Homo sapiens: one gene and its partner. The protein of the gene in region 1 purifies or fractionates together with the protein of each later gene. This does not show direct contact. Each region holds a gene or a part of one and is shown in the gene's direction. Other genes may lie near its edges.

Region 1 (3,771 bases):
TCACTCCACTGCGTGTACATACCCCACTCTGTCCATTCACTCCACTGCGTGTACATGCCACGCTCCGTCTGTTCACTCCGCTGCGTGTAGATACCACACTGTCTATTCACTGACACTTGGGTTGCTTCCACCTTTTGGCCTGGCCTTGTAAGCCCATCAGAGGCGATGCTGAGAGATTGTAGCCTTTTTGGGAAAGGAGGGCTTGAGGGCCAGGCAGAAGCTCCTTGGTGGTATTTGAGATGCTTCTAACAACAAAAACCAAACAGGGATGCTGTCTGTGTCGCCATTAGAATACTTCTCAAGATGATGCAATCTGGCCAGGTGTCGTTGCTCACACCTATAATCCTAGCACTTTGGGAGGCCGAGGCTGGAAGACAGCTTGAGCCCTGGAGTTCAAGATCAGCCTAGGTAACAAAGTGAGACCTCATCTCTAAAAACATTTAAAAAGTGAGCCAGGTGTGGTAGTGCGTCCCTGTAGTCTTAGCCACTTGGAAGTCTGAGGCAGGAGGATTCCCTGAGCCCAGGAGGTTAAGGCTGTAGTAAGCTGTGTTCGTGCCACTGTACTCCAGCCTGGAGGACAGAGCAAGACCCTGTCAAAAAGATGAAGCAGTATGACCCTCATATTCTGCCCTGCTTGGCACCTGGGCTGGGCAGGACACAGACCCAGAGGCCCCTGGCCTGCCCTGTGGACTTGGGGGTCTTCTCGTTTTCCTTGCAGGCTTGGAGTCCCGATTTCAGAGCAAGTCTGGCTATCTGAGATACAGCTGTGAGAGCCGGATCCGGAGTTACCTGAGGGAGGTGAGCCTGAGTGAAGACCGGGTATGCTGGGCGGGTTTTTGAAGCCAGGCTCTGTGGGCTCTGGAAGCCTGTGGTCCTCACGATGGGTAGTTGGTAGGACCACACTCCGTGCTTGCGTGGATCTGGTGGGGCTGCTCTGGTGAGGGAAGCTAGCGCACGGACCCTGTGCCTCCTCCCTTCATGGGGGTGAACACCCATCGGGCCTTTTCAGCTGCACTTGAGGTCACGGGTTGGGGAGCGGGGAGGTGGTGGCTCCTGCCTGCCTCCCCTCCTCTCCTCCTCTCCCCCCGAGGCTTCTTCCTGGGCAGCAGTGGCAAGCGTCACGGCAGACACAGAGCCTGAGCTGTCATTTGCCCAACTGTGACCAAGGTCAGCAGGTGCTACAGGGATCTGAGGCCCTTCCCATGAGCCCATCCTTGGTCTGCAAACCTCTCCACCGCTCCCTCCTCCCTCCCAAAGGTGGAGTCAGCTCTGCCCTCATTTCCATCCACCCCATCGAATGTGGATTTCCTCATCACATAGCATGACATGCCACGCTACACCATACCACACCATACCAGACCACACCACACCAGGCCACACCACACCAAGCCACACCACACCAGGCCACACCACACCACACCACGCCACACCACACCAGGCCACACCACACCAGGCCACACCACGTCATTCCACACCATGCCACACCGCATCATTAGCACATGGAGGGTGCTGTGGAGGCCCCTGCAATGGGTGTCCTGTCCTAGTGCTGCCCTGCGTGGTCGGCCCCCACGCCCTCGGCCCACTCCTCTCTGTGGCACAATTGCTAATGCTGCACTGCACCCCGTTTTTCTGCATCTCTTCGAGGTCCTGGCGACTTGCCATGTTCCCTTGCATTTCCCAGCCTGCTCCCTGTAGTGGAGCTAACTGATCCTGATACTCTTCCCTGCAAGTGCAATGACCAGGCCCTTCCACGCACCACTGCCTGCCTGACCAGGGTGGGATGGCCGTGCCTGCCTGACTTTATTAGCTCATCTTCTTTTTTGAGACGGAGTCTCACTCTGTTGCTCAGGCTGGAGTACAGTGGTGCAATCTCAGCTCACTGCAACCTCTGCCTTCCAGGTTCAAGTAATCCTCCTGCCTCAGCCTCCCAAGTAGCTGGGATTACAGGCATGTACCACCATGCCCAGCTAATTTTTTGTATTTCTAGTAGAAATGGGGTTTCACCATGTTGGTCAGGCTGGTCTCAAACTCCTGACCTCAAGTGATCCGCCCACCTCGGCCTCCCAGAGTGCTGGGATTACAGACGTGAGCCACCACACCCAGCCTGTTATCTCATCTAAGTCTCACCCAGCCTGGGGGCTGGTGTGGTTCCCTCCATTTCACAGGTCAGAGTCTCCCAGGGTGGGACAGCCCAGCAGTGGCCGAGAGGCCACGTGAACTCAGACCCTCTGACCACAGGACTGGGCTTGGGCAGGGTCTCAGAGGGCCATGGAGTGAGATGGATCGAGAGCCAGTGCGGGTTTTGGGGCGCTGTGCACCAGGCTCACCGACGTTCCTTGGTTCCTCCAGGTGAGCTCCTACCCCTCCACGGTGGGTGCGGAGGCTCAGGAGGAATTCCTGCGGGTCCTCGGCTCCATGTGCCAGAGGCTCCGGTCCATGCAGTACAATGGCAGCTACTTCGACAGAGGAGCCAAGGGCGGCAGCCGCCTCTGCACACCGGAAGGCTGGTTCTCCTGCCAGGTGAGCTGTGTGCCCTTTATCCTGGGGCCACCCGGCTGGCCTGTGGAACACAGCCCGCCTGGGGCGAGGCGGGTGGGGACCTTCAGCCCTTGCCCTGCCTGGGCAAAGCCTTGTGAAGAGGTACAGCCCTCACATTCCCAGGGAGGGCGGCAGTGTCTCAGCCAGTGCCTCTCAAGCTGCAGTGCACACAGGAATCCCTGGGGAGCTTGCAGAGGGCTGCAGGGCCCGCCCCAGGGCTTGTCTCGGTAGTGCTGGGCGGTGTCTTAGTCAGCCCCGGCTGCCATAACAGATGACCCCTGCTGGGGAGGCTGGAACGGCAGCTGGTTACTGCTCATAGTTCTGGAGGCTGGAAGCTGAGATCAGGTCCGCACTCCCCCGCTGCCTTCCCAGGTGTCCCTGCTGCACCGTGCTAGGCGTGGTCTGGCCTTTAGTGGTGATGCATCTGTGTCTCTGGCGAGTCCTGGGCACACCCCTCCCCCTCCCATGGTGTGGGGAGCAACTTGAGGCGCCTCTTGGCGTTTGCACACTGCAGTTGCATTCCCGGTAAGGTCCACTGATGCCCGTGATCTTCCGAGTGCCACTCAGTGGGTCCAGCAGCAGGGGCCAGGTGGTGGGCATGGCCTGCGGTGCTTCTTCCCATGGGACAGGGCTCCTTGCTGCTCCTGCCAGGCAGATCCTTCTGGGGTGATGGGCTCTGGCCATAAAAACGCTTCTTCCAAGTTAGCTTAACATTTAGACTTTGCAGTGCGCTCGCTCACCACTCAGTGAGTACTTACTTTGTGCCTGGCACTGTGGGAGGGGTTGGGACACAAAAATGAAAAATCCTTCATCCCTGATGGCAGGGTGAGTCCTGCACAATGGAAGGTGAAAGACACATAAATGAGCGAGACAGAGGAGGCCAAGGGGCTGCAGGAGCCGCAGCCAGCATCCTGGGAGCCAGGGCCAGTCAGAAGCGGCCCCAGGGAGGGGGTGGGGCCTTAGAGCAGGTTGACTGATAGGTGGGGGTGCAAGAGTGAGCTGGGAGGGACCAGGTGCTCCGGGCATGGCAGTGGGAAGCAGTGGGCTCTGCTGGGGAGGCTGTGAGTCCCCAGGGTGATGGGGGCACAGAGTGCAAGTAGGCACTGGGGCTCCCGGCACGTGCTCTGCAGATGTCTGTTCACGAATGAGTGTGTTGAGTGCTGGGCTGCGGACCACAGGGAAGACGGAAGCTGTGGCCATGGCACCTTCAGTGAGGCAGCCCTGCCTCTGCAT
Region 2 (3,771 bases), about 80 Mb from region 1:
AATGGATAGTTATAAATGGGATTATCCATTATGATTATGTATTATTAAAGCATTTATAATTCCCATAGTGTTTTTACGAGAATTTTAAATTTTATTTATGTATTTACATATAGAATAATGCCGGACTTGAAGATTTTGAAAGGAAAAAAACCCTTGGAACAGGTTCATTTGGAAGAGTCATGTTGGTAAAACACAAAGCCACTGAACAGTATTATGCCATGAAGATCTTAGATAAGCAGAAGGTGAGTGTATTTGTTGTTATTTACCTTCAGGGTAAACTTTAGTTTTATCAGCTAGACTATTAAACAGATTCAGTATAATGACTTACCATTGACAGCTTCAAATAATTTTATTATTAAATTTAATTTTTATTGTAACTAAATTTTTATTGTAACTATATTATACATAGTTAGTATACAGTCAGCCCTTCCATATCTATGGGTTCCACGTCCATGGATTTAACCAATCACAGATTGAAGATATTTGGGAAAAAAATTACATCTATACCTAACATGTACAGACTTTTGTTTCTTGTTATTATTCCCTAAACAATACAGTGTAACAACTATTTACATAGCATTTACAATATATCAGGTATTATAAGTAATCTAGAGATGATTTAAAGTATATGGACAGTGTGTATAGGCTTTATGCAAAGCCTCTGTCATTTTATATAAGGGACTTGAGCACCTGGGCATTTTGGTTTCTGCTGTAGGTCCTGGAACCAACCCCCAGGGATACTGATGGACAACTATAATTTATTGTGACAATTATGGACTAATTTGTTTTGTAACTATTACAGAAGTTAAAATGTGTACAGTAGTGATCCAACCACTTCATGTTACAAATTTTGAAAACCTGAGGCCCAAAGATTTGAAATCATCTCAAGTCAGAAAGTTAGTTAAATAAAAGGCCTAGATTAAAACACAAATCTGACTCCTACTCAATTTATTTGCTCAATATTATCAGTATACTCCTAATTTTATATATTAATACCTGGCTGGTATCTTTAATTACTTTTGTTATTTATATTTAACTTCTTGACTTCTGTGACTATCCTCACATTGACCATTAGACTCCAGCAAGAAAGAATGCCACCTTCTAATGATTTACACATATACAAGAAAATTATTTATATGTCTTGCTAAAGTCACCACTTCTTAAATTCAAAATAGAATCACATATGGAATAGAATCACAGTCTTCGTGAAGTCAAGATAAATTACTTTCCCCTTCTATTAAATAGAAAATCTAGAGGAAGCTTAAGTCTAAATGACCTAGGATACAAAGATAGTTTTTGTTATAAAGATAGTTTTTTCCCCAATATTTTGTGTGTCCTCTTCTATGGCAATATAAAATAAATTTTTAGAATTTATACCTATATTTATTTAGATATTATAAAATGAAAATTGTTCATTTTTACTCACTATTTTTCAGTTATGGACTTTCTCTTCATTTTTAATTTTCTTATTCATCTTCTGAAGTATTTAAAATCACTATCTACTTATTGCAGAGATTTGAGCCAGCTTTTATAGAGGACTTTAAGTCATTAGGACCTTAGTATTTTCACATTCATTTTTAAATTACCTTAAGTAATTATATATTTATTTAAGCATAATTGACATAACTAATTTTTAAAGTAATTTCTTATGAGTTTGTTTCTTATTCCTACTTAGCTCTCACTTCTTAATTGAAACCATAATTGACCTTCCTAAGACCAAGTTTTAAATCCTCTATTAGGTTTTCATTTGAATCCTATTATTAAAAGTAATGGCAAAAACCGCAATTACTTATGCACCAACCTAAAAGTTGGTAATTGTTATTATCTTCCTTATCCAATTCTAACAATTTTGCTTATCCAAGTTTATTACTATATGGAAAACATTTTTTTAAATGATAACTTTTTAATTTTGCTTAAATACATTAAGAGATATTTATCTCTCAATTACAGGTTGTTAAACTGAAGCAAATAGAGCATACTTTGAATGAGAAAAGAATATTACAGGCAGTGAATTTTCCTTTCCTTGTTCGACTGGAGTATGCTTTTAAGGTAAATTTTAGTAATATCTAAATAAGATATTTTCAACCTAAATTTTTTTTAAGATGAAACTATAAATGGATTCTAAACCAGATGATAAGCCTGAAGAATATGAATAAACAAAACGAATACCTCTAGAGTTTGTGTAATTAAATCCTATTGTGCTTATAACTTAGGTAACGTTTGAAAAGGTTTTGATTCTCCCTGGGGAAATTGTTCAAAGGTGATACTCATGAGATGGTATTACAAAAAGAAATATTTCAATTTATCAAAAACCATAGGGATATCTTAATAACAATTCTTATGCAAATTCATACACCCAACACATTTTCTACTTTGATTAAGCCCTTTTTGCCACTATCTCATCTTCTTTTACTTAGTAATTTGAGTTCTAGTCTTTTCACTTATACAAAGCAAAATTTTTGTTCCACTATTCAAATGTCTGAAAAATTGTACCACATTTATTATTTAAATTGGTCACTTTTGAGCTCTTTGGAATGATACTGGCATCTCTCTGCAATATTGAATCATATGAAACATTTTAATCTTTTTTCTCCTTTATTCTTTAAATTAAATGAAGACCTATGTATTTAAAATATTAAAACCATTAATCTTTTATACATAAAATGTAAATATTCTTATTAACTTTTTAAATTGTTTTTTACCTTTGTTATTCTTTTGCATATATTATAACGTTACTTCATTGCCTGAGTATTTAATTGTTTGAGAACTAGATGTTCTCTGCAAGAAAAGGAAGAGCAAAAGTCCCAGACTAGTTTGTGGCAAAAATAACTAGGAGGGGAAAAATATGAGTGTCTCTGTATAGAAAAGCTAGAGCATGTTCCATTTATTCTTTATTTCTCAAGGTTATTAATCTGTCAGAGAGATTTTAAATTTTTCTAATTCAGCATTATATAATATTAAAATAATTTTGACCTAAGTTGAATAATTGTATTTCCTTTTTATTTGTTCATAGGATAATTCTAATTTATACATGGTTATGGAATATGTCCCTGGGGGTGAAATGTTTTCACATCTAAGAAGAATTGGAAGGTTCAGGTAACTAATGGTTTTGCTTTCTTCAAATCTTTATATGCTTGTGTTGTTTAACCAGATTTTTAAGTTGATGCCAATGCCAAAAACTTATTTTGTTTGATTAATATTTTGGCCATATGAAGCATTAGGTGGAAACAAAGAGGCCACATCATACACAAGTTTTAATATAAAGAATATAAAAATTTAATATAAAAAAAGGACTTTGAAGCCAATTTAAATGTTATACTACTGCTAGATATTGTGAGGGTCCACTACTTGAAGAGTTTTCAGAAAATGGAAAAATTAATTGAATTTTAAAATATCAATATTTATTAAACAAAGATTAATAATACAACTCCAGGACAGAGGATTGTTTTAAGGATGAAGATGGAAAATAAATATATAGAGAAATAATAATAATAGTATTATGGTAATAAGATTATAAAAGTTTGTTTTTCACAAATTTAATTCTCCTTAAAGTTCTTGCTAAGTTTAGTTTTTAAAATATACACATAATTTAACGGGAGTTTGTACCTCATCAGGTTATGACTAATAAGATCTCAGAGTTATTAAAATAGGTTATAGAATCTGATGGTTTTACCTGTACTTAATAGTTTATAAGCTTCTACCGTTCATTAATAATCACTAATAGAATAAAGCTAAAATAAAAAACAGGTACAGCTTCATTCAGTATAGTGT

Evidence for each region. Proteins that work in one complex are often made in the same cells at the same time.
Region 2: the proteins of DFFB (region 1) and PRKACB purify together in Homo sapiens (affinity purification with mass spectrometry; 2 studies listed by BioGRID and IntAct, with this or other methods). This does not show direct contact.

The regions. Positions count from the first base shown.
Region 1 is NC_000001.11:3,867,256-3,871,026, forward strand, and holds part of DFFB (DNA fragmentation factor subunit beta), read left to right. Parts: intron 1-718; coding exon 719-798; intron 799-2,349; coding exon 2,350-2,520; intron 2,521-3,771. UniProt on the Homo sapiens protein: Nuclease that induces DNA fragmentation and chromatin condensation during apoptosis. Degrades naked DNA and induces apoptotic morphology.
Region 2 is NC_000001.11:84,182,087-84,185,857, forward strand, and holds part of PRKACB (cAMP-dependent protein kinase catalytic subunit beta), read left to right. Parts: intron 1-113; coding exon 114-242; intron 243-1,950; coding exon 1,951-2,049; intron 2,050-3,013; coding exon 3,014-3,096; intron 3,097-3,771. UniProt on the Homo sapiens protein: Mediates cAMP-dependent signaling triggered by receptor binding to GPCRs.